Regions from separate parts of the Homo sapiens genome. Here region 1 is linked to region 2. The links come from fine-mapping of genetic effects on gene expression. A gene starts in region 2. The other region holds a variant in brackets. All regions are shown on one strand. Distances are between the middles of the regions.

Evidence for each region. PIP is the estimated chance that this variant, and not a neighbour inherited with it, causes the effect.
Region 1: its variant is fine-mapped to the expression of EDDM13 in whole blood (TOPMed, PIP 0.97).

What each region holds. Positions count from the first base shown.
Region 1 is chr19:56,294,958-56,311,542 of GRCh38, forward strand. The region is part of intron 2 of ZSCAN5A (zinc finger and SCAN domain containing 5A); the gene reads right to left. EDDM13 (epididymal protein 13) reads left to right here. Exons shown (of 15, transcript NM_001354658.2): 10 at 1,002-1,010; 11 at 1,379-1,405; 12 at 2,548-2,574; 13 at 7,011-7,138; 14 at 9,836-9,873; 15 at 15,167-15,497. The coding sequence ends at 15,191. LOC124900420 reads left to right here. Exons shown (of 5, transcript XM_047439799.1): 5 at 1-15,497. The coding sequence starts at 11,284. The coding sequence ends at 12,402. Among named protein-coding and RNA genes, the nearest start is that of ZSCAN5A-AS1, 11 kb to the right of the region's middle. The variant C/G (reference allele first, on the strand shown) is at 8,114.
Region 2 is chr19:56,263,995-56,280,579 of GRCh38, forward strand. It overlaps EDDM13 (epididymal protein 13), which reads left to right and starts at 8,754. Exons shown (of 15, transcript NM_001354658.2): 1 at 8,754-8,925; 2 at 12,098-12,115. The coding sequence starts at 8,841. All of the region lies in intron 2 of ZSCAN5A (zinc finger and SCAN domain containing 5A), which reads right to left. LOC124900420 reads left to right here and starts at 8,754. Exons shown (of 5, transcript XM_047439799.1): 1 at 8,754-16,585.

The DNA.
Region 1 (16,585 bases), 31 kb after region 2:
TTGCCTAGGACCGCGGGAGAGGGGGGTGAGCCCAGAGAGATGGGGAGTGACTGCTCAGGGGCACCAGGTTTGGAGGCAATGGCCAACGGGTACACGGTTTCTTTTTCAGGTGATGAAAACGTTCTAAAATTGTTTGTGGTGATGGATGCACAGCTTTGTGAATGTCCTAAAAACTACTGTCTTGTACACTTGATGGGTGAGTCATAAGTTATGTGAATTATATTAATATACCAGTCAAGTTGTTATTAAAAAACAAAGTTCAGAAAACAACAACGGGTGGTGGGATGGAATGTGCCACCCCTGGATGAGTATGTAGGTGCCTACATTAGAGTGACACAAAATACATGGAAAAAAGGCCTGGCATGGTAGCTCACACCTGTAATCCCAGCACTTTGGGAGGCTGATGCGGGCGGATCACCTCAGGTCAGGAGTTCTAGACCAGCCTGGCCAACGTGGTGAAACCTCCGTTTCTACTAAAAATACAAAAATTAGCCGGGTGTGGTTGCGGGTGCCTGTGCTCCCAGCTACTCAGGAGGCTGAGGCAGGAGAATCGCTTGAACCCGGGAGGCAGAAGTTGCAGTGAGCCGAGATCGTCCCACTGCACCCCAGTCTGGGCAACAGAGCAAGACTCCGTCTAAAAAACAAAAAACAAAACAAAACAAAAACAAACAGAAGAGATGGGAATGGCGTGGCGGCTTCCTTCCCAGCCTAACCTTGCTGCGGTGCAAATCCTGCAAGTCACTGCACGTCCCTCCAACCCACACGAAGCAGCCTCTGACTGTTCTGCGCTGTTCACTGTGGCATGTCCTGACTACTCAGCACGACCCACCCAGGGCTCCGCTCTCCTGTGCTCCCATCGCTCTGTCTTCTGATGTTGTGATTTTTCCCTACATGTGGCCTCCTCTTCCACGGCTCCTGGGAACTCCATACTCTGGGCCTGTCTGCTCCCCTGACCTGTCTTGCTTCCTGGACCCCATCTCCTTCTGGATGGACATCATCAGAGATCCTAGGTGACACCTCACTCCATGCCTGCCCCGGGACTCTGTAGGAAGCTGGTTTGGGAGGAATGCTTTTTAGGGCTGGGCAGGGTGGTGGAAAGCTGAAAGATGGATCTGACAAGCTCACACCCTCACGTCAACTCACAGTCTAGTGGAGGTGGGGAGATGGAAAAGTAACAGGCAGTTAAACTACAACAGGAATCTGTGTGGCACAGGGGGGAGGTGGCAGTGGGGACAGTGTGCAAGAGGACGATGCGGGCAATCCAGCAGGGCTTCTCGGAGGAGGAGTGGCTTGGGGCGAGCCTGCTGGACCTGCTGGTCTGGAAGTGTTTATCATGCTGTCCCTTCTGACTCGCGTTGTATGCCCCTGTCCTCCTTAGGCTTGCTGAGCCTCCAAGTACTGCATGGTAAGTCTGGTGACTGCTATTTCGTGTTCACTCCTGTGCACAGAAATATACAGGTACTGGTTTTTTCTATGGTGGGGGGTCCCTTAAATATCATCAGACCCTACACTCTTTATCCGTATCATCATCTGCATCATAAATGTTTAACATGTTTTTATTTGTCCAACAGATATTAACTGATGTTAGCTCTCCTGTACCAAATGTTATTCTAGGTGTTAGAGATGCAGCAGAGGATAAAACAGACAGAAGTCTGTGACCAAGTGAAACTTGTATTCCAATCAGAGGAGAAAAAACAAAGAGCAGTAGTTATAGGTCTGCTGAAGGCTATTATGTCCTATGGAGACAATAGAGTAATGGGGATGGAAACGCAGTGCGGGAAACTTAAGTTTTTTGGCTGGGCATGGTGGCTCATGCCTGTAATCCCAGCACTTTGGGAGGCCGACGTGGGTGGATCACCTGAGGTCAGAAGTTCGAGACCAGCCTGGCCAACATGGTGAAACTCCGTCTCTACTAAAATACAAACAATTATTTTGAAACAAATTTTGTAAACATAGAAAAAATTAGCTGGGCATGGTGGTGTGCACCTGTAATCCTAGCTACTCGGGAGGTTGAGGCAGGAAAATCACTTGAACCTGGGAAGCAGTGGTTGCAGTGAGCCGAGATCATGCCATTGCACTCCAGCCTGGGTGACAAGAGCAAAACTCTGTCTCAAAAAAAAAAAGTTTTTAAAGGGCGATCAGGGAACATGACATGTGAGCAAAGGCTTGAAGAAGAAGGGCAGGTGAGCCAGAGATAACTGGGGGAAAGGCATTCCAGGAAGAGAGAACAGTATATGCAAAGGCCCTGAGGCAGCTGAGTCCCTGGGATCCAGGGACACAGGGAGACTAACTTTATTCTCTTCTCTCCTCATTCGAGGCACCTGGAAGCACTATTTAGAGTTTGGTCTCCACCCACTTCATAATTCACCTGATGGTTTCTTTTCTTTTCCTTTCTTTTCTCCTCCTCTTCCTCTTCCTCCCTCCCTCTCTCCCTCCCTTTCTTCCTTTCCTCTTCCTCTTCCTCCCTCCCTCTCTCCCTCCCTTTCTTCCTTTCCTCTTCCTCCTTCTCTTCCTGCTTCTTTTTCTCCTCCATCTCTTCATTTTTAGAAGAAACAAGTGGCTGCAAGGAGGAAGGTAAGTGCTTGGGGTCGTACCATTCCTCATCTATAAGACAGTGTGTCCCTTCTGTCTGGGCTATGATAAAGCCTTAGAAGAGAAGATTTCAGGTAATCAAGGCCCTGCAGGGGCTTTGGTACCTGAGAGGCTGCCTTCCTGAAGGGCATCCAAAGTCTGCAAGCCACTGCCCCTTTCACACTGCTCATGGGCATCGAGGAGACCCAACATACTGAGATGTGAGTGGGAGACATTTCTATCCCAGCTGCTGCTTCTGTGGACTGTGAGTCCTCTCTTCCCGACATGGAAATTACCAAGCTAAGTCCTGGGTGATAGGACTGAGGGCCGGAAAACCAGAAAATAGCAGCAAGCCACCAAGTGATCCAGATGGTGGAGATGAGCGTTTTAAAGTAGGCAGAGCCGGGCATGGTGGCAGCACCTGTGGTCCCAGCTACCCGGGAGGCTGAGGCAGGAGGATTATTTGAGCTGGGGAGGTGGAGGCTGCAGTGAGCCGTGATTGTGCCACCGCATCCGGCCTGGGTAACTGAGCAAGTCTCAAAAAAAAAAAAAAAAGCCAGAACAACACTAATGGTTGGTTCTTTTGAAAAGCGTAATACAAATTTAATCCTCTAGCATTACTGACAAGAAAAAATAGAGGAGAAACAAACTGCCAATATTTGGAAGGAAGAAGAGAGTATCATAGCAGATCTTGCAGGTAACAAAATAACAATAAGGTGATCATTGGAGAAACTTTATGCCAATAAAATTGAAAGTTTAGATAAAACGGACAAAATCCCAAAAAAACACAAATTACCAAAAACAAATGAAATGATATAAAAAATCTGGGCTGGGCGCGGTGGCTCACATCTGTAATCCCAGCATTCTGGGAGGCCGAGGCAGGCGGATCACAAGGTCAGGAGATTGAGACCATCCCACCCAACATGATGAAACCCCGTCTGGTGAAACCCCGTCTCTACTAAAAATACAAAAAAATTAGCCAGGCGTGGTGGCGGGTGCCTGTAGTCCCAGCTACTCGGGAGGCTGAGGCAGGAGAATCACTTGAACCTGGGAGGCGGAAGCTGCAGTGAGCTGAGATCGTGCCACTGTACTCCAGACTGGCAACAGAGCAAGACTCCATCTCAAAAAAAAAAAAAAAATCTGAATAATCCTCTATCTATTAAAGAAATGCCACCTGTAATTAAATAGCCTTACCACACACAAAAAAGTCTTTCAGGATCAAGTTAGCTTTAATAGTGAATTAAAAGGAAGAAATCACATTGATCTTACAGGAAATCTTCCAGAAAATTAAAAACAGTCATTTCCCAACTCGGTTTTAGGACAGAATAACCTTGATAAAAGATCTGACAAATACGACAAAGGAAAATTTCAGGCCAATCTTCCTCATAAATATAGATGGAAAATCCTAGACTAAATATTAGCAAGTGCAATTTGGCAATACATGTTAAACAATCATGACTAAATTCACTTTATTCCAGCAATGCGACAATGGTTTAATAGGTAAAAACAAATATATGGTATTCCCACCTTATTAACATAAAAGAAAACAAGCACATTATCATTTCAGTAGATACAGAAAAAGAATATGGTAAGATTTTACAGCTTACATTATTTTTTTTTTGAGACACGGTCTAGCTTTGTTGCCCAGGCTGGAGTGCAGTGGTATGATCACGGCTCACCACAGCCCTAAACTCCTAGGCTCAAGTGATCCTCCCCTCTACAGCCTCTGAGTAGCTGGGACCACAGGCACGAGACACCACACCCAGCTAATTTATTAAATTTTTTGTAGAGTTTGGGTCTCCCTATGTTGCCCAGGCTGGTCTCAAATTCCTGGGCCCAAGTGAGCCTCCCGCCTCAGATTCCCAAAGTGCTGGAATTACAGACATAAGCCACCATGCCCAGCCTTGTTCATGATTAAAAAAAAAAAAAATCTCAGCTAGCTAGGAGTAGAGAGAACAGCTTAATATAATAAGGAATAGCCACCAAAAACTTACAAAGAACAAGCTGTTTAAGGTAAAACACAGTTGTCCCTCAGTATCCTCAGGGGTTGGGTCCAGGACCTCCCCGCAGATAGCAAAATTCCTTGATGTTCAAGTCCGTGATATAAATAGCATAATGCTTGCATTTAACCTATGAACAGCCTCCTGCACACTTTAAATCATCTCTAGATTACTTATAATACAATGTAAATGCTCCTTAGTTATTGTACTGTTATATTTTTGTATTGTTTTTATTGTTGTATTGCTATTTTTATTGGGATTTTAAAAAGTATTTTTGACCAGTTTTTGGCTGGGTCCTCAGATGCAGAGTCCAGCGACACAGAGGGCTGAGGGTGTAGAACATGTTCCCTCTGAGATCACAGATGAGACGTTCTTGCTATCACCACTTGCATTTCACATTGGACTGAACGTTCTATCCAGTGCAAATCCTAGCCAGGCAAGAGAAAGGTAATAATAGGCAAAAGGATTGTGAAGAAAGAAAGATGAGCCTCATTTTTTATAGATGTGATTGTGTACCTTTGATTGGGAGGGTATATCTGAGAGGCTTGGGATATGCTGGTGTTGGTGAAATATAATTAAAAACAAAATATCCTCCAAACCCAGAGCTCTTCTCCACCCAGGTAGAAGAGAAAGAAAATAGTTTTATTAATGGGTAAGCATTAAACCAGAACATGATATGCGAAGAGACTGCAAAGACAGAAAAAAAAAATTTCACCCTTTTATATAGCCAAGCAGATACAACTTATTACATACCTGCTCTCAAGATAAACAACAGCTAGTCCTCAAGTTAAAGAACTTGACAGCTCTATTTGCTGTACATGGTTCACCGTAAATTCACTTGGTTATTGGGATAGCCAACTGTGTTTGTTAATTGGCTTAATCCAAGGGAAAAATAAACTTCTAGTATCTTTATCACAGGAGGTAGATTTGCTACTTGGGGTGAGGTGCCCACCAAAGTTAGGCTCCATCCCCTCCCAACAAGAAGCTGGGGAAGATGTTTCGAGGTCCTTGAAAACACCCTCCTGGGTCATAATGCTGGCCGCAGGCTTACTTAGCTTTGAAAAAGATTAGTGTAAACGTTGAAGAGAGAGAGACTTGCAATGGCAAAATTTTCTAAAGTAAATGCTCTAAGCAAAGGGGACAAGGAGTAATCGCTTCCTGAATTTTCAACAGGGAGAATTCATTTTTTTTCGTTTTCGATTTGCATTTGCCTGTACACTGGTAATGTTTTATTTTTTGATTGGAAACCTGTTTAGACAGACAGGTTTACGTGTAAAAAAAAAATGAGATTTTCTGAATGTAATACTTTTAAAATAAAAAGACAAGGGAAAAATGTTACACAGGCGAAAGAAACACTCTTGCACCTCATGAGGTTTGACATAAGAAAGCGACACGGTCGGATCTGGTGCTAGAAAGATCCTGCTGGCACTCATGTGGGAGATGGATGAGAAAGAGAAAGGATGGCGTAGTGGGCAGAGGCAGCCATCAAGAGCAGAGCCTGAAGCCTGGGGATGGGGGAGAGGTGGTGGTTTTGTTACCAGAAAGGGGTCCCGATCAAGACCCCCAGAGAGGGTTCTTGAATCTCGTGCAAGAAAGAATTTGAGGCAAGTCCATAAAGTGAAAGCAAGTTTATTAAGAAAGTAAAGGAATAAAAGACTGGCTACTCCATAGGCAGAGCAGCAGCAAGGACTGCTGGACTGAGTCTCCTTATAGTTATTTCCTGAATATATGATAAACAAGGGGTGGATTATTTATGAGTTTTCCAGGGAAGGAGTGGAGATTTCCTGGAGCTGAGGGTGCCTCCCCTTTTTAGGCCAGTAGGGGAACTTCCTGAAGTTGCCATGCCATCTGTGAACTGTCATGGTACTGGTGGGCGTGTCTCTTAGCCTGCTAATGCATTATAATTAGTATATAATGAGCAGTGAGGACCACCAGAGGTCACTTGAATCGCTATCTTGGTTTCGGTGGGTTTTGGCAGCTTCTTTACCGCAACCTGTTTTATCAGCAGGGTCTTTGCGACTTGTATCTTGTGCCAACCTCCTATTGTCATCCTGTGACTAAGAATGCCTTAACCTACTGGGAATGTAGCCCAGTAGGGCTCAGCCTCATTTTACCCAGCCCCTATTCAAGACGGAGTCACTCTGGTTCAAACCCCTCTGACAGTTTGGTGAGAAATCTGGGCAAGACAGGGTCAGATTTGGTGATGTCTTGGATGTGAGGTGGGAGAGCCAAAAGGCATTCCTGACTGTTTGTCTGGAGTATGGTGGTAACCAAGAAGGGGGAAGCTGGCAGTGATGGTGGGTGTGGACCAAAATTTCAATTCAGGAGGCAGGCAGAGATGTGAGTTTGGAGATCAGAATGGAGAGACAGCAGTGACAGGAAGCTCTAAGGCAGGAAGGGAAGGCCATCAGCATCAATCATCTCCACGGTTCTCTCCAGTTAAACCCTTCTCAGGCACCACCCCATCCAGGAAACCACTCCCCAAGAGGAAGAACACGTGGAACTTCCTGAAATGCGCCTACATGGTGATGACCTACCTCTTCGTATCCTACAACAAAGGGGACTGGGTAAGAAGAAGGCAGCACGGAGGGGAGGAGTGTGAGGAGAGGAAGGAAAGAGGAGGGAAGTGGGGGCACAGAGGAAGCGAAGGAGGGTGCCTCAGAGGTGCCAAGCAGGAAGTGGTGGGAGAGCCCTTCTGTAAAACACTCTCTTCTTCCCACTCTCCCACCCGCCTCCATCTCTCATTTCATTCTTCCTTCCTCTCTCCTTCTTCCCTCTTTTCTCCCTCCCTCCCTCCCCTTCCTCCTTCCCTTTCCTCTTCCTTTTTTCTTCCCTCCCTTACTTCCTCCTTCTCTCTCCTCCCTCCCTATTCTTTCCTCCTCCCTTCATCCCTCCCTTTCTCCCTTCCTTCCTTTCTTCCTCTCTCCGTCTGCTTCCTCCCTCCCTTCTTCCTTCCCATCCTTCTTCCCTCTCTGCCCTTCTTTCCTTCCTCCCTCCCTCCCTCTTCTTCCTCCCCGTTCCTCCCTCCCTCCCCCCTTCCTTTTCTTCCTCCCCCTTTTCTTCCTCTCCCTCTTCTTCCTCTCCCTCTTCCTCCCTCCCTCCTCCTCCCTTCCTTTTCTTCCCCCCCTCCCTGTTCTTTCCTTCCTCCTTCCCTCCTTCTCTCTCCTTCCTTCTCTTTCCTTCTTCCCTCCCTCCCACCTCTAGACTGGGATAAAACTTCTCCCTTCTGCACTAACACAGCCCCAGGGGCTCCTTTGAAATACTGTCACTCATTCTGCCTCTCTCTCTGCCGCTGTCTCTTGTTCTTTCTAAGGGACGTTCATAAGGACCAAGCCTGTTGCTGGTTGCTGGGGACTCTGATGGTTGAGCTACCTTCAAGAAGGTCCTAATTCTGTAAGGGAGGCAGACATCCACAGAGAGAACCAGATCACCGAGTGGTAGCACTTCATGAGCAGGTGCTAGTGCAGGAGGCAGTGGCGCTTATCTCAGCCTAGGGGAAGTGTGGGCTCATGGAAGCCTTTCTGCAGGAGGTGACACCTCTG[C/G]TGTGGGTTAAGGACAGAATGGAATTAGCCAATTGAGGAGGGGAAGCAGGGGAAGCATTCCAGAGAAACACCATGTGCGAGACTCAGAGAGGTGAAAATAAGGCAGGGTGCAAGAAACTACAAGCCAGGCCGGGCACGGTGGCTCACGCTTGTCATCGCAGCACTGTGGGAGGCTGAGGCGGCTGGATCACGAGGTCAGGAGTTCAAGACCAGCCTGGTCAACATGGTGAAACCCCGTCTCTACTAAAAATACAAAAAATAGCCGGGCATGGTGGCGCATGCCTGTAATCCCAGCTGCTCGGGAGGCTGAGGCAGGAGAATCACTTGAACCTGGGAAGCAGAGGTTGCAGTGAGCCAAGATCACACCAGCCTGGGTGACAGAGTGAGACTCTGTCTCAAAAAATTAAAGTAAATAGAAAAAAAAAGAAGGAAAGGAAGGAAAGGAGGGAGGGAGGGAGGGAGGCAAGACGGAAGGGAAGGAGGGATGGAAGGAAGGACAAGTCATCCTTCATTCATTGATTCAGTCAGTCTTCAAATATTCACGTGTGTAGAGGACCCATCCTAGATGCTGGGGACTCAGAGAAGAACGGAACCCATAAGGTCCTTGAGTCCCCAGGGCTCCCATGTTTGGGATAGCAGGAGGACTGCAGAGAAACAAGCAGCCAGCTCCAAAAAACATGAACTAAATCAGGGTGATATCACAGAGTGAGCAGCCATGGCCACGGGCAGCCTTCCCCGGGCAGGTAACGTCTGGACATAAGAGATGAGACAGTGGAAGGATCTTGCCTTCAGAGCAGCTTGGGGGCAACCACTGCAAGCAAAGCAGGCATGCACAGCAGACCCTGAGGCAGGAACACACTGAGTACCTTCGAGGAACCAAAGGAACATCTATGTGACCTGAGAGGGGCAGGGGGGTCCAGGTCATGTAAGGTTCTCATAGACCACGAGAAGGAAGCTTGTGTTCTAAGCTAGTGGACAGCCGCCAGCAAGATCCCTTCTGAGTTATCAAAGGATCCTTCTCAATGCTGCCTGTGGAGAGTGGATCGGAATCAGGGCGAGAGTGGGAGCAGACAGACTGAGAGGAGGAGACACACTGAGAGGAGGCCCGACCAGCCAGCGCAGGGGACCTGGCGGTGCTCATGGAGATGAGAGCCGTGCAGCAGTTCTAAAGGAACTGCTTATGCGCTGGGTGTGAGGAATAAGGAAAATGGAGAGACCAGGGAGATGAGCCTGAGACAGTGACTTCAGTTATGCTAGTGGTTCTGAAACGGGGGTGACGTTGCCACCCAGGAGACACTCAGCAGTGTCTGGACCACAGGATTGGTTGTGACAGCTGGAGGAGGGAGCTCGACTGGCATCCAGTGGGCAGAGGCCAGGGAGGCCACTCAACCTGCCATACGGCCCAGGACAACACGCCACGACAAAAATAACCCAGGTCAAAACGTCAGGAACCTGAGGCTGAGAAACCCCAGCTTAGGGGATTGTGCTGCTTATGGGGATGAGGAGAACTGGCTGGAAGATGGGGAAGAAGGTGGGAGTGGTGAGAGGCGGGCTGAATAGAGAAGCAAGACCAGAAGATGTTACAACCAGAGGGAAAGAGCAGAGGGGGAGGACGGGAAAGAAGCGAGAGGGGGATGGGGAGAAAGGGAGGTAAGGAAGGAATTCACTCGCCTCACCCCAACTGTTTCTTTCTCTGTTCCCAGTTCACTTTTTCCTCCCAAGTGTTACTGCCACTACTGTAACTTGGAACTGGACATCAGGTATGCTATGGCAGGGAAGTGGGCTTTTCCCACCGCTGGGGTGGGGTTAGGGGAGGTTCATCCCAACTGCCTGGCATTTGAGGTAAGGAACACAGGTGGATTTGGAAGCTGCAATCATAGAAACCCAGAATTCCATGAGAAGTCCCAAGTTCGTCACCCTTACTTGCAAGCCACTGCCTGACAGGGGCAAGGAAACACATTGTAAATGACAGGGATGTGCCGGGCAGGAGGAACTCCTTTATAAATTCACTCTATAATTTTTTCACAAGTCTTAGGACTTGTGGCCCAACACACACGACATAAAATTAACCATTAGTGACATTCAGTACACTCAAAATATTGTGTGGCCATCACCACTAATCTGTTTCCAGAATCTTCTCATCATCCTAAAAGGGAACTCTGTACCAAGACATCGTCTCTTCCCCCTGTTCCTGGCAACCACTAGTCTACTCTCTGTCTCTGAGAACTCACCTACTCTGGTCATTTCATACACATGGAATCATACACTACGTGGCCCTTTGCATCTGGGTTTATTCATTTGGCATAATATTTCCAAGGTTCATCATGGTATACCTTGTATCAGGACTGTATTCGTTTCTGCTGGATAACACTCCACGGCATGGACATAGCACACTTTGTTTATCCATCATCAGGTAAAGTGCACTGGGTTGCTCCCACCTTTTGACTGTTGTGAGTCGTGGTGCTATGAACAAGTTATGTTAGAATATCTGTTTTAAAATCTTTTGGGGTACAAACTAGGAGTGGAATTGCTAGGTCATATGATAATTCTGTGTTTATAACGACCCACTGATGCATCCTGGATGCAGTAGTGAACGGGGCAGACAAGATTCCTGAGCTCACAAGAAAACAATTAGATGATTACAGGTGATACTTAGAGCTAGAGGAAAAGCTGAGGATATGATGAAAAAGAGAACTAAAGAACCTTGCCCTGGATAGTTGGGTGATGAAGGAAAGCCTCTTTAGGAAAGTGACAATGAATCAAAGGCCTGTAGAATGAGGGGTTGTCAGATACACAGAAAACAAGTGAAAGAGCCTCCAGGTGAAGGAACTGGCTTGTACGAAGGCCCTGGGGTGGAAAGTGGCCTAGATGTGCCTGGAGTCAGAAAGAAAAATGGGGGCAGGAGAAGGGGGAGGGAGTGGGAGGGCACTATGGGAGGAGTGTGGGTGACATGCTCAGCAGACCACCTCAGACCTGGAAGATTAGAGCAAGCATTTTAGACCCAACCTTCAGAGCCATGGGAAGCCACGGAAAGGCTGTCAGTGAGAAAGAGACACGTCCCAGTGACATGAAGTGTAGAGGCCAGTTAAGAGGCTACTCAGTTTCCACGAGATGACGGTAGCCTGGTCAAGGCTAGGGTCCAGGGTACGGAGAGAAAGTACGAAAGACAGATGGGAGGTTTCTCTTCCCTCGATAGCTGCAAAGAGGGTCCCCCTGGCCTCTCCCGCATCGCCAGAGAAAGTACTAAGGACAGATGGGAGATTTCTCTTCCCTTGATAGCTACAAAGAGGCTCCTCCCTGGCCTCTCCCACGTCGCCAGAGAAAGTACTAAGGACAGATGGGAGACTTCTCTTCCCTCGGTATCTGCAAAGAGGGTCCCCCCCGGCCTCTCCCCTGTTGCCAGAGAAAGTACTAAGGACAGATGGGAGATTTCTCTTCCCTTGATAGCTACAAAGAGGCTCCTCCCTGGCTTCTCCCACGTCGCCAGAGAAAGTACTAAGGACAGATGGGAGATTTCTCTTCCCTTGATAGCTACAAAGAGGCTCCTCCCTGGCCTCTCCCACGTCGCCAGAGAAAGTACTAAGGACAGATGGGAGACTTCTCTTCCCTCGGTATCTGCAAAGAGGGTCCCCCCCGGCCTCTCCCCTGTTGCCAGAGAAAGTACTAAGGACAGATGGGAGATTTCTCTTCCCTTGATAGCTACAAAGAGGCTCCTCCCTGGCTTCTCCCACGTCGCCAGAGAAAGTACTAAGGACAGATGGGAGATTTCTCTTCCCTTGATAGCTACAAAGAGGCTCCTCCCTGGCCTCTCCCACGTCGCCAGAGAAAGTACTAAGGACAGATGGGAGACTTCTCTTCCCTTGATAGCTACAAAGAGGCTCCTCCCTGGCCTCTCCCACGTCGCCAGAGAAAGTACTAAGGACAGATGGGAGACTTCTCTTCCCTCGGTATCTGCAAAGAGGGTCCCCCCCGGCCTCTCCCCTGTTGCCAGAGAAAGTACTAAGGACAGATGGGAGATTTCTCTTCCCTTGATAGCTACAAAGAGGCTCCTCCCTGGCCTCTCCCACGTCGCCAGAGAAAGTACTAAGGACAGATGGGAGATTTCTCTTCCCTTGATAGCTACAAAGAGGCTCCTCCCTGGCCTCTCCCACGTCGCCTGCCTTTCATCCTCTCCCTGGCATCCCCAGTGCCCTTTTTACATTAAAAAATGTCAACTCGATCATACGATATACCCCCACCCCCTGCTGCAGTCCTGCTTAAATCCACCAGTGGAAACTCACCAACTATGATGAGTGTCTTTCAAACTTTAAAAGAAAGAAAATCCAAAACACTTTTCTACTGAAATCTTACATGGAATCCCAATATATAAAAAATTCTAAGTTGCTTTTCATTACCAGAGGTACTTTTCCTAAGGTTAACTGTGTGACATTTACTTATTATGAAGTGAGGTGATGAGATTTGCAAGCACAGGGTACAGAAGGCCTCTGCTGTCTTACGTTACTCTCTTTTACCCCGTATCTTGCAGTGTTTCCTTTTAATTGTTCATACGGAGAAAAATCTGAGCCCACAGAGATAAGTCACTGCAAATGCCTAATAGTTTGCCTTGTGAAGTGTACATGCCCTTCAGGTAATACAATTTTTTCCCCAAGGTCTGTATGTAAAACATGCAACAGGTTGGTGTGGCTCTCCAGTGAATAAAAATTTCAGTCCATGTGCTATATTTTGGGTACACACCTATTTTAAAAAATAGTTTAATTTTTGAAATGAAAATCAAAGCAAACCTTTGTGGAATTCCTAAAAGATCCCAAGTTTTCAGGGAACCTGGCAGGAAGCCTCTGCCCCATTGATCAAGTTCAGGTCTCTGGCATGGTACCCAAGGGTTCTCAGGCTCCAAGCTCCTCCTGCTTCTCTAAACTTTTCTCCACTTCTCTTGATCCCCCCACCCACATTCCATCCCCTGTCCATATTAAACCTTTTTTTTTGAGACAGGGTCTCGCTCTGTCGCCAGGCTGGAGCGCAGTGGCGCAATCTTGGCTCACTGCAACCTCCGCCTCCCGGGTTCAAGCAATTCTCCTGCCTCAGCCTCCCAAGTAGCTGGGACTACAGGCGAGTGCCACCACGCCCAGCTAAGTTTTGTACTTTTAGTAGAGACGGGGTTTCACCATGTTGGCCAGGATGGTCTCGATCTCTTGACCTTGTGATCCGCCCGCCTCGGCCTCCCAAAGTGCTGGGATTACAGGCGTGAGCGGTGGCTCCCAGTCTTTTTTTTTTGAGATGGAGGCTCACTCTGTCACCCAGGCTGGAGAACAGTGGCCCAATCTCAGCTCACTGCAACCTCTGCCTCCCAGGTTCAAACGATTCTCCTGCCTCAGACTCCCAAGTAGCTGGGATTACAGGCATGCACCACCACACCTGGCTAATTTTTGTATTTTTAGTAGAGATGAAGTTTCACCATGTTGTCCAGGCTGGTCTCGAACTCCTGACCTCAGGTGACCCACCCACCTCGGCCTCCCAAAGTGCTGGGATTACAGGCATGAGCCACCACGCCCCCCCATATTAAATCATTTCTGATTCCCCCCAAAACATCACATTTTTTTTCCCGCTCCATTATGCCATTGCACACATTGATTCCTTGATCTCTGTCTACCTAGAAAAGTCCTCCTCAGTCCTCAAGATTCACCTAAGCAATGCTTTGGTTCAGGAACCAACAGCAATCCTTCAGATTCCACTGGGGAGGATGCTGAAGGAAATGAATGGTGTTGAACGGTTTCTCAGGCTCTCTTCAACCATACATTAAAGCACCGGTCAAACCAGATAGTTATTTTCATATAAAGGTGTGCTTTCAACCCATTAGGCAAGAGGTTGGCAAACTTTCTCTGTGAAGGGCCAAATATTACGTGTTGGCTTTTCAGGTCATATGGTCTGTTGCAACTACTCTAGTCAAAGCAATCGTAGAGAATACACTGATGGCTGTGACTGTACCCAACAACTGATGAAAGGATAAACAAAACGTAGTGCATTCATACAATGGATTATTATTCAGCCCCCAAAAGAGGAATGGGGTCCTGGCACGTGCAACAACACGGCTGAACCTTGAAAACACTGTGCTGAGTGAAAGAAGCAGACACAAAAGATCACACAGTAGATGATGCCATGTATATGAAACAGACAGATCTGGCAAATTCAAAGAGACAGAAGGCCAATTACTAGTTGTCAGGGGCTGAGGGGAGGAAGGAACAAGGGGAGTGACTGCTTTTAATGGATTTCTTTTTTGGGTTGATGAAAATGTTCCACTCTTAGAAGTGACAATTGCACAACATGGCGAATGTAATGAAGGCCACTAAATTGTGCCCTTTCAAAATGGTTAAAATGGTGAATTTTATGTTATGCATTATGTTTGCATTTTACCTCAATTACAAAAAGAAACTTTATTAAAAGGGATGCAGGCTGCAGTTGGCCCTGCGGAACACAGTTTGAGGGCCCCTGCTCACATAGACTGTGAGCCCCTGTGGGAGCAGGAAGTACCCCTGATCCATCCCTGGAACTCCAGCACCCAGAAGCAAACCTTAAGGTTCTCTTCCTGCAACTCTGAGTGACTCCAGCACACCAGGCTAGGGGGTGCAGCCCAGCCAGGCCTGGGCAGTCCCTGCTCCTGCGGGGCGCGCCCTCTAGTGGGAGGTAGGGGTGCAACACAAGCTCAGGCCCGGCGCCGGGACAGTGAGGAACTGGAGGGGGCGCTGCTTCCCACTGGCTGGTTTCTAGAAGAGCCCTGCTCTGAGGAGGAGACACTTGCCCTGGTGATGGGGCAGAGCTAGGGTCCATAAGATCTGAGGGAAGCGTGTTCCAGCTGCTGGAACAGCCCGGTGGGAATAGGGACAAACTTGGTGGAACCTAGTGAGTGGGGAGAATGGGCTAAGCTGGAGGGAGGAGGTGGGCTTGAGGCAGGTCACAAAGAGCCCTGTAGAGGTGGATGGAGAGGGCACCAGGCAAGGAGTATGAGAATGCATGAAGACGAAAATCAATGCACAAATACATTTCTCTCTCCTTTCTTAGGGATGATCCCTGCTGTTCTTTCTAGTGAGCCTGCTCCATCTCAGCTTAGCCTTCACAAGGCCTCCATCTCCCAGGCATTCTAACCTCTGAAGAAAGCTCTCTGTCCCCTGGACTGCCTGTGTGGAGGGTAATGAACTGGGTCCTTTAAGGAATGGCACCTGGGTGCCCAGAGGCATGGCCAGAAGGTGTCTGTGGGGGCCATGCCTTAGGGGGATGCACCCAGGGCGGCTGAGAGAGCAACTGCAGGAGTTTCCCCTAAAATCTCTCCTCCAGATCGTTCTCGAACTTTCCCCACTACTTCCATAATAAAATGTATACTTGTTGAAATGGCTGAAAAGGCTGGGTTATTCCATTCGCCCAACACTGAAAACTAACAGGTATGCTGGTGGATTACCAAGAATCAAACGCTATCAGTTAACTGTGCACTTTACAGGTGAAGACACTACAGCTCAGAGAGACCGATGGCTCGTCCAACATCACACTAAGCTACACAGCTGAGATTTGACCCAGTTGGACTCATTCCAAAGTCCGTATTCTTTTGTGTAAAGATTTGGGGCTGCCCCCACCGTCCTGAGGAAATACAGTTGTGAGGATATGGCTGTTCCAGGAGGAAGCCGTATCCAGCTCTCCAGCCTGCATGTTTCTTGCCTATTCTGGAGGAGGTTCCTTGTCCTGGTTGAAAGCTTTGGCTCTGGAGACAGGTTTCTTGGGTTCGAATCCCAGCTCCACCCCTTAATAGATATGCAGGCTTGGGGAAGGTATTGTCTCTTAATGCCTTATTTTATCATCTGTAAAATGGGGATAGTAACAGTAGGGTAGAAGTTCTCTTATCATCATGATCAGAACCATCACTGGTTGGTTCATCAAATAAGTTGGTTCCAATAGGTAATTAAAAATACTTTTACCATTTTGTTTTAAAACATAAAATTGTACAGGCATTTGCTAATCTTTTGATATAAGACCAGGGGGTTTCGTTGTTGTTGTTGTATAGGTCTATGGACCTACAATTTCCAGTTTGTCCCTTAAAAGGGCAGCGGAGACACAGGCATGCTTGCAAAGCTATTTAAGCAAAATCCTCACTGCATTAAAAAAAAGAAAAAGATCATCCCTATAGCCATCTTGCTCATTCCAACTTGACATATTTTTTGTTGTTGCTCTTATTAACAATCGGCCTTTATCACATCTTTCCCACTGAATTACTGTTTTGGGTGGAAACAATTCTTTGCTGATGCACTCATATTTTCCTCATTTATGTTAAATGTAATTGCATTACATAATTGAAATAAAATCCATTAGAATGAAAAGGTTTAGAATAAATGCAACTCAACTAGCTCTGGGTAGTCACACAACTGAACCAATAGAGAAGAATGAAGGCATATTAGAAAGCACTGCACTAGCCAGGGGCATTCAGTGAGCCTG
Region 2 (16,585 bases):
AATCTCGTTCTGTCACCCATGCTGGAGTGCAATGGCATGATCTTGGCTCACTGCAACAGCACTATCTTGGCTCACTGCAACCTCCGCCTCCCAGGTTCAAGCAACTCTCCTGCCTCAGCCTCCTGAGTAGCTGGGATTGCAGGCACCCGCCACCTCACCCAGCTTAATTTTTTGTATTTTTAGTAGAGATGGGGTTTCACCATGTTGGCCAGGCTGGTCTCGAACTCCTGACCTCAAGTGATCCACCTGCCTCAACCTGCCAGTGTTGGGATTACAGGCATGAGCCAGCACACCCAGCCCAAGAAAGACTTTTTGGACACTATCTCAGGGTAAGGGAGTAGCAGGATTGGGATTTACACCTGGATCTGACTCTCAAGCTCATGCTCATTCCACTACAGAAAATGACCTGTTTGTTCAGGTCTTCCTATTAACTGAGATCTTCCATCTTCCAGGAATGATGCAGTACATTCCAAGAAAGATGTGTTATGGAAGTGACATCAGATCTGAATCCTGAAGTCAAAGTTTCATTTAGTAGAAATCAAGGTAAGATGAGGAAGTGTTGGGAGACTGGACTATGAAGTATGAAGAGTCTGTATCAGAGGCTGGCAAACTATAGTTGACCATTTGTTTTTATAAATAAAGTTCTATTGGAACATAGCTAGCTCCCCTTGCTTATGTATTGTCTCTGGTGGCTTTCTCACTACAGTGGCAAAGTTGAGTAATTGCGACAGGGACCATATGGCTAACAAAGACAAAAATAGTTACTATCTTGCTCTTGACAGAAAAAGTTTTCCTACTCTTGATCTAGGTCACACTAAAGCTTTTAGTCATAAATGCTATCCTAGGGCTGGGCGCGGTGGCTCATGCCTGTAATCCCAGCACTTTGGGAGGCCGAGGCAGGTGGATCACTTGAGGTCAAGAGTTCAAGGCCAGCCTGGCAGACATGGTGAAACCCCGTATCTACTACAAATACAAAAATTAGCCAGGTGTGGTGGCAGGCGCCTGTAATCCCAGCTACTCGGGAGGCTGAGGCAGGAGAACTGCTTGAACCTGGGAGGCGGAGGTTGCAGTGAGCTGAGATCACACCACTGCACTCCAGCCCGGGTGACAGAGTGAGACTCCATCTCAAAAATAAATAAATAAATTAAATAAATGCTTATCCTGTATGTAATGTTGAGCCATGGAAGGATTTGGAGTAGGGGAGACACATGGGCTTATTTCAGAATTACAAAAAAACCATTCTCAGATCCATCCTAGCACAGGGCACTCCCATGATAAAGGCATCAACAACACAATTCCAAACCATCTTCACTTCTCAATCTTTCACCTTGAATACCATTTCAACAAATATTAATTGAGCATCTAGTATGCACCTATACTCTATGTAAGTGGTTAAAGCTGTAAGCAAGCAGTAAGGCTTGAAACTTAAAGCTGGTGGAAAGTAAACTGAGGAAGTGAGCTTTCTCTTTGAGAGATCCAATGGAAGGAAGACTATGTACAGAAGGACAGCAGCCAGAGGTTGCCTTAGAACACAAACAGAGCTGAACTTCTTGAATCAAGCAGGTTTTTTGGGTTCCAGTGGCAGAAACGGACTTTGGCTAGCTTAAAAGAGAAATCACTGGAAGGAACTGGCAAAGGGGTGGAGTTCAAAGGATTAAAGTGAAGGCTGGAGAGTGGGTTTGGGAAAGAGTGAAGCCTGGGAAACCAAGAGATTTCTGTATCATGAGCCACTCAACACTCTCACCTGAAAAGCATTAAATCTGCTTCTTCCACTCTTGCTTTACTCAATTCGAGATTTAAAGTGCCAGGTAAGCAGTCTGATTAGCCTGGCTTAGGACAAAGGTTGGTTGGCTTTAGTGTAAAAATAAGGATCTGGTGCAAGGAGCTTTGAGGGACCCTGCTTGCTTTTCATTATGAGAAAATGGGCACGTGCATTAACTATCCCACCAGGACCACATACAGTGGAGCAGAGGTAATTCTTCCAAAGGAAATCAGGGTATAGAGACTTAGCAGCTAAACAAGTTCACAAATGTCAATCATACCTGTATAGATTCAAATCCTACCTCTTCCAATTATTGGCTTTGTTGACTTTGGGCAAAGTTATCTCATTTGCAAAGAGAAATTATAATACTACCCAGCTCTTAAAATTATGAGCTAATAGATATGAAGTGCTTAGAACCACGTCTGGCACATCATAATCACCCAATTAAGCTTAACTGCTGAGAGTATTATGATTATTACTGCATGCTTGCTAAAAATAGCACCAAGTGATAGAGCCCACGGTGAGATCTAGGCCCTCATTCCAAAGCTCCCGCTCTTTCTGCCAAGCCAAGCTGCCTTTGCAGATCCAACCTCAGTTAAATGAGATGATAATGTGTGTGAAGTTGTTGGGGCAGGTGCCCAAAGAGGATGCTCAATTACTGTCCAAGACTTTCTTCCTCTCTCCCCAAAGAAGTGAGTAGGCTTAGGCTTTGCTTTCTGCTTGGGAGATGCCCCCACTTTTTTTTTTTTTTTTTTTTTTGAGATGGAGTCTCACTCTGTCACTGAGGCTGGAGAGCAGTGGCGCGATCTCGGTGCCTGGTTCAAGCAATTCTTCTGCCTCAGCCTCCCGAGTAGCTAGGACTACAGGCACCTGCCACCATGCCCGGCTAATTTTTTGTAATTTTAGTAGAGACGGGGTTTCACCATGTTACCCAGGATGGTCTCGATCTCCTGACCTCGTGATCCACCTGCCTTGGCCTCCCAAAGTGCTGGGATTACAGGCGTGAGCCACGGTGCCTGGCCGGAGATGCCCATATTTAATAGAGAACCAAGTGGGTGTAAGAGGGCCCAGGGAAAGCAGACAAAGAGGAATGTTCCTGGTTTGTGCTTACTATCATTCTCACGGCGGAGCCCACTCAGGTTTGTTGACAATCTGGCCCCTGCCTACCACTCTAACCTCTCCTCCCTCCACATTCCCATGAGCTTACCCTGCTCCATCCACAATGATCTTCTTTCTGCGTGTCAAATTCCTTCTGCTTTTTTCTGCCTCGGGGTCTTTGCACAAGCTGTTCCCTCTGTCTAAGCTACTCTTACCCCAGATCTTCATTAGGATCTAAACTCAAATGTGACCATCTCAGTGAGGTCTCTCCTGACAACTCTAGCTACGGCAGCATCTCAACCCCATCGGTCTCTAACACATGGCCCTATTTCAGTTTCTTTGCAGCAATGACCAGTACATGAAATTATATATGTGTTTGTCAATATTGTTGTTTGTCTTCCTACACCAGACTATAAACTCCACAGGGTTAGAGAAAGTGCATCCCCAACACCGAGACTGCTTGGTTCACAGAGGGTGCTTTTACACATATGGCTCTGTCAGAACTGTCATAGCAACCCTGTTAGGTATATAGTCTATTAAGGCTGAGAGGCGCTTAGTATCATGATTTAGAGCAGCACTGTCCAATATATGTAGCTATTTAGATTTACCACGTAGCTATTTAGATTTACATGCTTCATAATGAAATAAAATGAAAACTTCATTTCCTTAGTTGCATTAGCGTCACCTCAAGTGCTCAGCAGCCGCACGTGGCTAGTGGCCACCATTCTGGGTAGCACGGATACAGGACATTCCTATCACTGCAGAAAGTTCTACTGGACAGGGCTGGTTTAGAGCATTCACTGCAGATTCATATACTTAGCTTCGAATCCCAGTCCTGCCAATTACTAGTGGTGTGATTCTGAGTGGACCTTATGCTTTTAGATCTCACTTTTTTCATCTATAAAATGACGCTAATAACAGTTCCCATCTCATAGTGTTGTAGGAGTTATTATAGGCAAAGGCTCTTAGAAGAGCATCTGGGATGTAGTCAGTGCTAGAAAAAGTATCGACTGTTGCTATGACACCTCCATTTTTACTCCCTGAGAAACTGAGGTCCAAAGAAAAGAAATCCTTGTCCTAGTGCACACAGCCAGGAGGTGGAGGGAGCTGAGGTTTGATCCCGCACCTCTATGATTTCAGAGCCTGGCTAAATCCGATGACACTTTTCAGGTCCCTTCTGGGAAAAATCCCTGAAACTTCTGACCCATTGCTCCCTTATCTGTTTAGTGGGGGACAGAAGACTCCAAGGGCTCCTCTATCTAGGATAGATGTGAAGGAACTGACTGGAGAGCCAGCCAGAGCCCAGGACATGGGTTGTCTATTCTAGGACCTAGTCAGTGGCTTGGGACTCCTTGGGGGTTGGGAAGCCAGGCTGCCCAGGACACAGAAGCATTGGTGTGGCTGAGCCAGTCATGCCAGCTGCAGCCGAGACCCCTTGTGTGGGCGCTGCCCCTGTGGGTGTAATGGCCCCTGCGGCAGGGACAGAATGCTCATCCCTCCCACCTGCTCAAGCTCTGGGACTGCCCCAGGAACTGTACAGAGGGGTTGAACTATTTCCACTTGTTTCCCTGTAGAAGCCTCAGATGCTGCTGCTGCTGCTGCTGGTTTAATTTTTAAATTTAGTTACTTTTAATACTTTTTAAATTTAGTTACTTTTAATATGCACAGTCCCTATGCTTGTACTGTTTTCTTTGTTTTGTTTTGGTAACATGGGATTTTTAATTGCTATTTTTAGAGCTTTTAACACATTTTTCTACATTTAAAACTTTTTTAATTGAGGTAAAATTCATATGATATAAAATTAACCATTTTAAGTGTACAATTCAGTGGCCTTTAGTGCATTCTCGATGTTGTTCAACCGTCACCCACATCTAGTTTTAAAACACTTTCCTTACCCCTCACCCCATCTCACTAAGCAGCCATTCCTCTTTCCCTCCCCATTCCTAGTCCCCGACAACCACTATCTACTTTCTGTCTCTAAGGATTTACTTGTTCTGGATATTACGTATCAATGGAATCATACACTAGGTAGTCTTTTGTGTCTGGCTGCTTTTACTTTGCATAATATTTTCAAGGTTCACCCATGTTCTAGCATGTATCAGTACTTGATTTCTTTTTACAGTTGAATAATATCCTATTATATGGCTATACCACACTTTACCCATTAATCTATTGATGGACATTCGAATCATTTCCATATTTTGACTCTAGTGAATAGTGTCGCTGTGAACATTCGTGTGTGAATATTTGTGTAATTACCTGTTTTCCGTGCTTTCGGGTACATACCTAGGAGTGGACTTTCAGGGTTATACGGTAGCCCTATATTTAACTTTTTGAGAAACTGCCAAACTATCTTCTACAGGGGCTATACCAATTTACATTTCCACCAGCAATGTATAAGAGCTCCAATTTCTCCACATCCCCTCAATATACTTTAAAACATTCACAATTATATGGCATAATAATATAATAATTAATGATAATAATTGTTGCTATCATTAATAGGAGGAAACCGAGGCTCAGGGATATAGTCAATTGAGCAAGTTTATGCATCTGTGAGGCAGGCAGAATAATTGTCCCTGAAGATACCCACATCTGACTCCTGGAACCTGGGAGTGTGTTACTCTCAGATGTGATAAAAATAAGACTGTTAATCAGCTGACCTTGTGGGGAGATTATCCTGGATTACTGGGGTAGGTCCAATGTAATCACAAAGGATCTTGTAAGTGAAAGAGGGAGGGAAATGGGTAACAGAGGGAGACGGAATGATGAAAACAGAGAATCAGAGCAATGTACGGTGAGAAAGACTTGACCGGCCATCGCTGGCCTGAAAATGGGAGAGGGTTGGAGAGAGATTTGAAGACGCCATGCTGTTGGTTAGGAAGATGAAAGAGGCCGACCAGGAGTCAGGAATGTGGGCAGCCTGTAGAAGCTGCAGAAGGCAAGGAAACAAATTCCTCCTAGAGCCGGCAGAAGGAATGTAGCTTTACCAAGGCTTTTCACTCTATCAACCCATTTCAGACTTCTCAATTCCAGAACTGTATGATAATAAATCTATGTCGTCTTAAGTCACAAATTTTATGGTAATTTGTTATGGTAGCAAGAAGAAACTCAGGCCAGCCGTAGTGTGGTGGGGCAGGGATTGGCATCCACACTGGATTGACTCAATGTCTGTGATTCTAACTGATTGGCTGTCTGTGACTATAACAACCAGGTTTTTTGCCGTCTCCAGGTCCAGCACCACTTCCCTGCTCCACATAGACATGAGTGGATCTCACAAACATCACGCTGGGTGAAAAAAAAAAAAAAGATCCCAGCACTATGGGAGGCCGAGGTGGGTGGATCACGAGGTCAGGAGTTCGAGACCAGCCTGGCCAACATGGTGAAACCCTGTCTCTACTAAAAATACAAAAATTAGCCAGGTGTGGTGGCGCACGCCTGTAATCCCAGCTACTCAGGAGGCTGAGGCAGGAGAATCGTTTGAACCCAGGAGGCGGAGGCTTGCAGTGAGTTGAAATCGTGCCATTGCAATCCAGCCTGGGCGACAGGGTGAGACCCCGTCTCAATAAATAAATAAATAAATACATACATAGCTAGCAAGTTGTGCAAGAAAGATTCAGTGAAACACCATTTAGAATAAATGTAAAAACACACAAAATAATATTACATACGTGTACTGGAGCCAGCTTATGAGGGTCAATTGTTAACGTTTTCAGTTTTCTACATTTAAAACATTTTTAAATTGAGGTAAAATTCCTCATTTTAGCTGCTTGCCTAACATAGCCCAATACTCAAAACTAAATTGTATAAACTTGAACATAAATAAGTTATAATAAAAATAGAGTAATAAGCACTAAAAGCTCATCACTTCCTAGTTGTGGCTCCCCAAACATGGTGGCGGTGGTGGTTGGTGTGGGGTGGGTGGGGCAGGTGCTACTGTGTAATTGATAGGGACCAGAGATGTTGCTAAATATCCCACAAAGCGGAAGACAGCCCCCACCACAAAAACGATCTAGTCCTAAATGTCAGCTGTGCCAATGGTGAGAAATCCTGATCTTCCCTAAAGCATGAGTTCCTCATGAGCAAGGCCAGTATCTGACTCATCTCTGTCCCCAGATCACAGTCTGGCAGAGCAGATAATGCTAAAGAATATTAATGATGTTCTACATCCCAGGCATTTGTTGCATTTAAACCCTAGTGTTATGAGTTAGGGACTGTGATTATATTTGATAAAGCAAAGAAACAGCTGTGCTGGTAATGAGGCTGCTAAGGAAGGATGGAAAATCGAAACGTAGGACTAATCAGAGAAATCCAAATATGCTCCCCCAACCAATCACAATGGCCTCTAATTAACCACTGCCAGCTTCCTTATGCCAACGGCCTCCAACCAGGCACTCTTGAAGCCTTCCCTTTCTTTCACTATAAGCTTTCCCACTACCCTGCCTGCCTTTGAGTCTGTGCCAAACACAAATGGTGTCAGTGGCCTCCCTTATTACAGCAAGCTCTGAATTAATAGCCTTTGCTTGTTTTCATTGGGTGGTCTTTACTTCCGCATAGCACCGGATGTGAAAAGCCTTCCACATGTTTTACGCCTTGTTTCTTCTGCTCATTATAACAAATCCTGTAGTATCACGTTTTCCCGGTGATGAGTTGCCAGGACCATGTGCTCACAAAGGAGGGGAGCTCTGAAATATGGCAAATGGCCAACAAGAACTCTCTCCTCCAGCCTAGTCTGAAGGATCGCTGAGGTATCCCCTAATGTACATGAGATGGTCCAGCTTGTACTAGGGATTGAAACATAGATAGCACCAGAGATGGCGGCAGGAGAGAGTCCCCTGCAAGAGTGGACATCCCTCCACACCTGGAACTCTTTCCTTCCAGGACACTACACACAACCCTCTGTTTCTATCAGGCTTGAAGGAAGTACCATAGAAACCTTCAGAGCTTAGATAGACCAGTGGTCTCTACACTCTGCCTTTATTCCAGGAGTCCAGAGGGATACTGGGTCAAGTTCATATTCCCACTGACAGCTAAAGTTCTTGACTGTCAAAGCAATTTCTAAGAATTACCAGTGGAAACAGTTAGTTCCCTGTGGCTGCTATGAAAAATTATTACAAACTTAATGGCTACAACAGTACAAATTTACTATCATACAGGTGTGATATGATAGTATCACATTAGCCTGGAAATATCATTATCCCAACTTTATAGATCAAGAAAATGAAGCACAGAGTGGTTAAGTAACTTGCTCAGGGTACATAGCTAGTAAGTGCTAGAGGTAAGTATAAACGTAGACATCTTTGGAAAGGAATATACACAAAAATGTAAAAACAATACTTACTTCTGAGTAGAAATACGATAGATGTTGTTTGCTTGCTTTGTTGTTTTTCTGAAATTTACAGTACGTCTAGGACAGGGGTCCACAAACGTTTTCTATAAAGGGCCGGACAGTAAATATTTTAGGCCTTTTGGCCCAGATGGTCTCTGTCACAACTACAAAGCTCAGTCTTGCAGCCTGAAAGCTGCTGTAGACAATACATAGTGAAATGGCATGGCTGTGTTCCAATAACACTTTATTCATGGACACTGAAATTCACATTCTATATAATCTTCATGTCATGAAATATTTTCTTTTGTTTTTTCCCTCCAACCATTAAAAAAGGTAACAATTACTCTTAGCTCATAGGCCCTACAAAAACAGGAGGAGGGCAGGATTTGGCCAGCAGATCATAGGATGACAAGCATCACACTCAGCATGAAACTGTTCTAAAATGTTGCTTTAAGATGAAAAAGCAGATACAGTTCTTTGGTCAGCAGTTGGTGGCGTGGGCACAGGTCTGGAGACCTGCCAGCCTCCAGGCAGGCTAGAGGGCAGGTGTGGGCAGTTAGTTTTGTCCCTGGAGCCTGGGAAGACGGTGGGTGACCAGAGAGTCCTGTCTATCCTAGGAGGAGAACATTCAGCCCAAATCCCAGCCCCATCATGCACAGATCAGAGCCATTTCTGAAAATGTCGCTGCTGATTCTGCTTTTCCTGGGATTGGCAGAAGCCTGTACTCCTCGTGAAGGTAATGCTTCCAGCCATGCCTTGTGTCCTCTATGTATTTTCTTACAACTTGGGAGGCTCTTGTGGGCTGGATTCAGAGAGAAGCTCCTGAAGTCTAACAGACTTCTTCTTGCTTCCCATTTAGACATTCACATTTCCCTTGATGGACACAGTGGGGTGAATGAGTCTAGGTTGCTAGCCCCTGCCCTTGGAGATACACTTGTGTCTGCATCCTGGTTTCTATCACTGATTCTGTGACTTTGGGGAGACACTGCGTCTGCAAACCTTGCTGTCCTCATCTGACCAACGGGGCTCACAAGAATCCCCAGTTCATGGGACTGTTGCATGTCATTGACGAGCTTACGTTGTGCAGTGCCTGGAAGTCAACATTACCATAGTTAGATAATTCTAGTGAGACTCCAGACTTTTGCGACGTAAAGACACCAAAGAGTATATTGGGAAGAGGACTTGGGTCTTGCCATAACTCTGAGTTCCCATTTCCTCATTCGATCCACAAATGTTTATTCCTGGTTCTTTCCACGGGCTTGATGCTGGGAATATAGTGATGAAAATAGTTCTGTCTTCATGGAATTCTCATGCTAAACACACACATTCTAGTGTGGGGATTCGGAGATGGCCTCTCTAGAAAAGTCACATTTGAGGTAAGGAATAGGAGCTGGCCAGCTGAAGAGTTAGGAGAGACTATTCCAGGCAGAGACTTGAATATGCAAAGGTCCTGGGGCAGAAGGCACTGAGTCCCTCCATCAGAGAGAGGCCGGTGTGTCAGGAACGTGGTAGGCAGAAGGAGGGGCATGGTGGTGAGACTGTTACAAGTAAGAAGAGACAGGAGGCAGGAAACAGAACAGACGGGGGCATGTGAGTCACAGGAAAAATGTTGGATGTTATCCTCAGGGAAAAGGAAGCTGTGAAAGGGTTTTCAGCAAAGGAGTGTCATATTTAGGAGCGTGTGTGTGCATGTATGTGTGTTTCTGTGTGTTTAAACAATGTGTCTTGCCCTCAGGAAAGAATGGATTAGGTGGGAATCAGATTAGGGGCAAACACACAAGTTAGAAAACGTTTTGGTCATCAGGGTGAAGATGGGGATAAGTAGAAGGTTACGAGGCACTGAGGAAACAGCTCACAGGATTGAGTGATGGGTCAGATGCTGGTGGTTGGGGATAGAGAAGCATGCAGAAAGGCTCTCTTTATACATACATGTATTTGCAACTGGGGAATTGAGGCTGCCCTTAACTGAGATGAGAAAACTCTGTAGAGGTCGGGCGCGGTGGCTCACACCTGTAATCCCAGCACTTTGGGAAGCCAAGGCAGCTGGATTATTTGAGGTCAGAAGCTCAAGACCAGCCTGGCCAACATGGCGAAACCCCATCTCTACTAAAAATACAAAAATTATCCAGGCATGGTAGTAGGGGCCTGTAATCCCAGCTACTCAGGAAGCTGAGGCAGGAAAATCGCTTGAACTCAGGAGGTGGAGGTTGCAGTGAGCCGAGATCCTGCCATTGCACTCCAGCCTGGGAAACAGAGCAAGACTCTGTTTCAAAAAGAAAAAAAGAAAAAAAAAAAAACTCTGTAGAGGAACACGTTTTTTAAAAAATTTATTTTGAAATTATTTTAGACTTGAGGAAAAGTCACAAAAATTAAGTTTCTGAATATTCTTCACCCAGTTATCTCAGCTGTTAACATCTTACCTAACCATAGCACAATGACTAAAAGCAAGACCCAACACCAGAACAAAACTATTAAAGAAATTACAGACCTCATTCAAATTTTACTAATGTTTCTACTAATAGAAAAACTATTCTATTTGAGGATCCAATCCAGGATCCCACCTTGTATTTTCAATTAAGTTTTTTGTTTTGTTTTGTTTTGTTTTGTTTCAGAAAATCCAGCTCTTGCTCAACCATGTTGCATTTTGTTATCCCATCTCCTTTGGTCTTGTGATTTGTCCTTAGGATGTGTGATTGAACCTCCTCAATCTTTGTCTTTCACGACCCTGAAACATTTGAAGAGCTCTGATCAGTTGTTTTGCAGAATTTCTCTCAATTTGGGTTTGTCTGAAGCTTTCTCATGATTGGATTGAGACTATGCATTTAGGGCAGGAATACCACAGAAGTGGTCTCACACCCTTCCCCGGGAATTATATCAGGGACCACATGATGTTGATGTGTCTTATTACCCATGGTGTAAACTTTAGTCCCTCGGCTAAGGTGGTGTCTGCCAGGTTTCTCCACTGTTAAGTTACTATTTTCCCCCTTTGTAATTAATAAATACGCTGGGGGAGAAATTTTGAGGCTATGCGAATACCCTGTTCTCCTCCAATTTTTGCCCATTAATTTTAGCATCCATCTGTGGATCTTGCTGCAGAAATGATTGCTACAGTGCTTCTCCAATGGTGATTTTCTATTCCCCTTATTCATCTACATATATTCAATGGCCTTTCTCTGTAAGGAAAAGCTGACTTTTCTTCTCCATTTATTTATTCAAGTACTGTATTTATTTATATCAGCGTGAACTCAGGGATATTTATCGTATTGGTTGGGTGCAGTGGCTCAAGCCTTTAATCCCAGCACTTCGGGAGGCCAACGCAAGAGGATCACTTGAGGCCAGGAGTTTGAGACCAGCCTGGGCAACATAGTGAGACTCATCTCTACAAAAAATAGTAAGAATAAATAAAAAGTATTGCATTAACAGATTATTTTTTGATGGATAGGAGTGTGATGACCACAGATTCTTTTTTGAACAGGCTAAGCTTGAAGCACCTGTAAGATGTTTGGGACATCCATAGATAGCAAGTTCTGTGAGAACAGAGTTTGGGGTGTCTAGTGTACTCTTATACCAGAACTTCTCTTCCCAATCAGCCTTGCAAATACCTACAGAGCAGGGGCTGAATCTGATTTATCTGCGTCTCCAACACCAAACATGGGCCAATGCCCAGAGCATGTACCATGTGAATGTTGGTTGGATGGATGATGAACGAATGGACTTATCGATGGATGGATGGGCTGATAGATGGGCCCGAGTAGCTTTATTGATAGCAGTGAGTGGGTCAGCTGATCTCCAGGGACACTTCTATCTCTGGTCTTCTTGGTTATTGCACTGATCTGAGTCTAATGCTAATTTCTCTCTCTGCTCCCTGCTCCCGTTGTGAACTGGCTGGCTGATGCTTTTGTCTCCAGTTGCAACTAAAGAAAAAAGTAAGAACCGTGGAACCCCCAAGTCTGTATTTTCATAGCTACCTCTCCTAAAATTCTTTTCGATCTTGCAACCTCTCTGGCAATTCTGGGGAAGGGTGGCACTTGGATCTGGTGCACAGACCTGCCATGGGGTCTGGACATGACTCAGAAAAGCAAACCTATTGTTTGCTTACAGTGATGCTCACAACTAAAAGAGCAGCCCTCCTTCACTCCTTTGTCTGGGGAAGAGAGGCCTATTCGGAAAATGAAGAGCATTTATCAGGGAAGAGAGACTTCGGGCAGATCTCCATTAGAATAACACCTTGGCTTATGTTTAACACCAGCTGGTGGTTTGCAAACTTCATGGTCTTAGGGCCACTGAACACGCGAAAAAAATTATTAAGGATCTAAAGAGCTCTTTTTTTTTTTTTCCAGTGAGGGTTATTTTTATTTATTTATTTATTTTTGAGACGAGCCTCGCTCTGTCGCCCAGGCTGGAGTGTAGTGGTGCGATCTGGGTTCACTGCAACCTCTGCCTCCTGGGTTCAAGCGATTCTCCTGCCTCAGCCTCCCGAGTAGCTGGGACTACAGGCTGCGCGCCACCATGCCCGGCTAATTTTGTATTTTCAGTATAGACGGGGTTTCACCATGTTGGTCAGGCTGGTCTCGAACTCCTGACCTCAGGTGATCCGCCCACCTCGGCCTCCCAAAGTGCTGGGATTACAGGTGTGAGCCACTGTGCCCGGCCAAAGGTTATCTTTATTGATATTTACCTTATTGTAAATTCAAGGATTTTTAACTTAAAAATATTTATATTTACAAATATTATAAATATTTACAAATACAAATACTTATATTTACAAAAACTATTTCTATTTACAAATAAGCACATAAAAAGATGCTCAACCTCATTAGCCATCAGAAAAATGGAAGCCAAAGCCACAGTGAGGTATCACTTCACACTAACTAACGTGGAGAAATCAGAACCCTCATATGCTGCTGGTGGGAATGTGAAATGATACAGCTGCTTTGGAAAACAGTCTGGCTGTTCCTCAAAATGTTAAACACTGAGTTACTCAGCAATTCCGCTCTAGGTATGTGCCCAAGATAAATGAAACGTAAGTCCACACAAAAACCCATGCACAAATGTTCACAGCAGCACTATTCCTAAGAGCTAGCAAGTGAAGGTAATCCTAGCATGCATCCATTAATGAATGGAGAAACAGAGTGTGGTCTATGCATACAATGGAATATTATTCACCCATAAAAAGAAACAAAGTTCTGATGCATTCAACATCGTGTGTGAGCCTTGAAAACATTATTCTCAGTGAAAGATGCCAGTGATAAAAGATCACATATTACCTGATTCCGTTTACCGTATATGAAATATTCAGGATAGGCAAATCCATAGAGACACAATGGACATTAGTGATTTCCAGGGGGTGAGGGGTGGGGGAATTTAGAGACAATGACTAAGGGGTTCAGGGTTTATTTTGGGGTGATTAAAGCCTCTAAAACTGGTGTAGTGATGGTCGTACAAGTCTGAGTATCCTACAAACCACTGAAATGGGTGAATTGCATGGTATGTGAATTATATCTCAGTAAAGCTATTATTCAAATATCTATTACTGCATTAAAAAAATAAGGATAATAGAGACTCAGAAGGAAGGAGGGTGGCAGGGAGGTGAGGGATGAAAACTACCTTTTGGGTACAATGTACATTACAAAGATGCTGGTGCACTAAAATCCTAGACTTCACCACTGCACAATTCATCCATGTCACCAAAAACCACTTGTACCCCTAAAGCTACTGAAATTAAAAATATTTGAAAAATAAGGATAATAAATATACATACTGACATAAATAAAATGTTTTAGTGAAATGGCTGTTTCCAAACCAAAAAAGTTTAGTAAGAAAGGTATTATTTTACATTTTTGCAAATCTCTTTGATGTCTAGTTTAATAGAAAACAGCTGAATTCTCATTTCTGCTTCAGTCTGTCACAATGTGCTATTTTTTTTTTTTTTAGCTTTATGTGTTTGTTTATTTTGGAGACGTAGTCTTGCTCTGTCGCCCAGGCTGGAATACAGTGGCACGGTCTCGGCTCGCCATGACATCTGCCTCCTGGGTTCAAGCAATTATCTTGCCTCAGCATCCGAAGTAGCCTCCCAAGTAGCTGGGACTATAGGTGCATGCCACCATGCCTGGCTAATTTTTGTATATTTAGGAGAGACAAGGTTTCACCATGTTGGCCAGGCTGGTTTTGAACTCCTGACCTCAAGTGATCTGCCCACCTCGGTCTCCCAAAGTGCTGGGATTACAGGCGTGAGCCGCCCCGCCCAGCCACAATGTGCTATTTTGGTTGAAGCAAATGAAAATCTAATCTCACACAGATAAGGAGTTGGAAAAGGGAAGATCATGCAGACCCGTTTTAGGCAGAGTTCTCCAGAGAGACAGAACCATGAAGATATACATATAGATACATATATAGATAAAGATATTGATAGAGATATTTGAGAACAAATTTCTTAGGGGAATTAGCTCACTCAGTTGTGGGGTCTGCAAGCTGCAGAACCAGGAGGGCCAGTAGTGTGGCTCAGTCCAAGTCTGAAGGCCTCAGAACCAAGGAAGCTGATGGATGGTCTAACTAACTCTCAGTCTGAGGCCAATGGCCTGGGAGCTCAGGGAGCTGTTGGTTCAAGTCCTAGAATCCCAAAAGCTGGAGTACCTGGAGTTCTGACATCCAAAGCCAGGAGAAGGGCATCCCAGCTGCAGAAGGGAGAGCAAGAATTGACCCTTACTCCACCTCTTGGCTTCAGCTGGGCCTCCATCCAACTGGATGGTGCTCACCCACCGTGAGGGTGGATCTTCCCTACCTAGTCTTCCAACTCACACCCCAATATCCTCCAGAAACACCTTCACAGACACACCTGGGGCAGCCCAAACATTCTAATCAAATGCCAAACCACTCAGGCTTCCCTTTCAGCAGAAGACGGATGGACTCAGTGCCTACTGAAGCATTGAGAATAAACGTCTTACTGCTATATGGGTGCCTTAGTCAAGCTGACACCCCAAATCAACCATCACATCCCCTGAAAGGATCTCAGGGACCACCTCCCACCCCCACCAAGTAGTCTTTGGATGATACTTCGAGAATTTCTGCTCCAAGTCACATGGAAGGGAAAAAGATCTCTTTTTTTTCCACCCCTACTAGACTGCAAGACTGTAAGTTCCTAGAGGGCAGGGACTGTACTTTACTCAATCTGTTTATTCCTATAGCCTAGCAAAATTCCTAGCGCTCAGTAGGACTAAATAAATGGAAAGAGCCTTGCAAAATGGAAAGGACTGTGAGAACATAATTTAATGCTATTATTTCAGGTTGAAAGGAGATAAAAGGATCCAATATTAATTAAGCATTTAGCATGTACTGAGAATTTAAAATACGTCATGCAATTTAATTTTCAAAATCGTAAGTGTCCCATATGGGGTCTGAGGTTTCCAAAGCTCTGAATCCTCACACTGGACCATCATCATGAGAATCACATGGGAAACTTTAAAAATATTTAATCCCCACACCAGACTTGGTGAGCTAAAATGCCTGCAGATAACATTTTGGGTTTTTTATACCTAAAAAGCTAGCCTATGTTAGTTCCTTCCTATCTTCAAAAGCTGAACCTTCTAAACCTAAACAAATGCAAACATCTCATGATCCACACTGTTTTTGTTTCAATTTAAAATATTATGCTGTTTTAATTAAAATGTTTTATGTTAAATTATTTTATTAATATTTCAATTAACAAAACAGTATTTACATAAACTTTAATTACATTTAAATTACTAATTAATTATTCAATTTAAAACATCATGTTATTTTCATTTAAAATAAGATTTCCAGGGTTCAGAATTAAAGAAGTTCTCAAGGTTATACTGGAAAAAACTCCTTCCCAACCTATTCACTCATTTCCCTTCCCCGAAAGAATCTGATATTAATTATTTCTTCCAGATCCTTCCAGAGATATTTTATGCAAGTAGAAACAAATGTGTATTTATATATTCAAAGTCCTCTTGTTTCTATTTTTACAAAAAAGACAGCGTATTATACACACTGTTCTGTATGCACCTTACTTTTTTCACCTAATAATACTTCCAGAAGATGACTCTGTGTCAGTTCATAAGGAGCATCCTCAACCTCTTATTTATACGTTTTTGGCTGAATAATATTTCTTGTATGGAAGTCCACAATTTGTTTGACCAGTCACATACTAATGGCCACTCAGGTTGTTTTCAGTAGTTTGCTCTTTTAAATAATCCTTCAAAGAAAAATTCAGCTTACATGAAATTAGACATATAGGATATATATCAATGTAGATCTACATATTTATATCTGTAGGATTATACATGGAAATATGTAGAATTATATCTATATATAGATATATATTTCTTTATCATCTAGATATAACCACTGTCGTAGTCTGTTTTGGGCTGCCATAA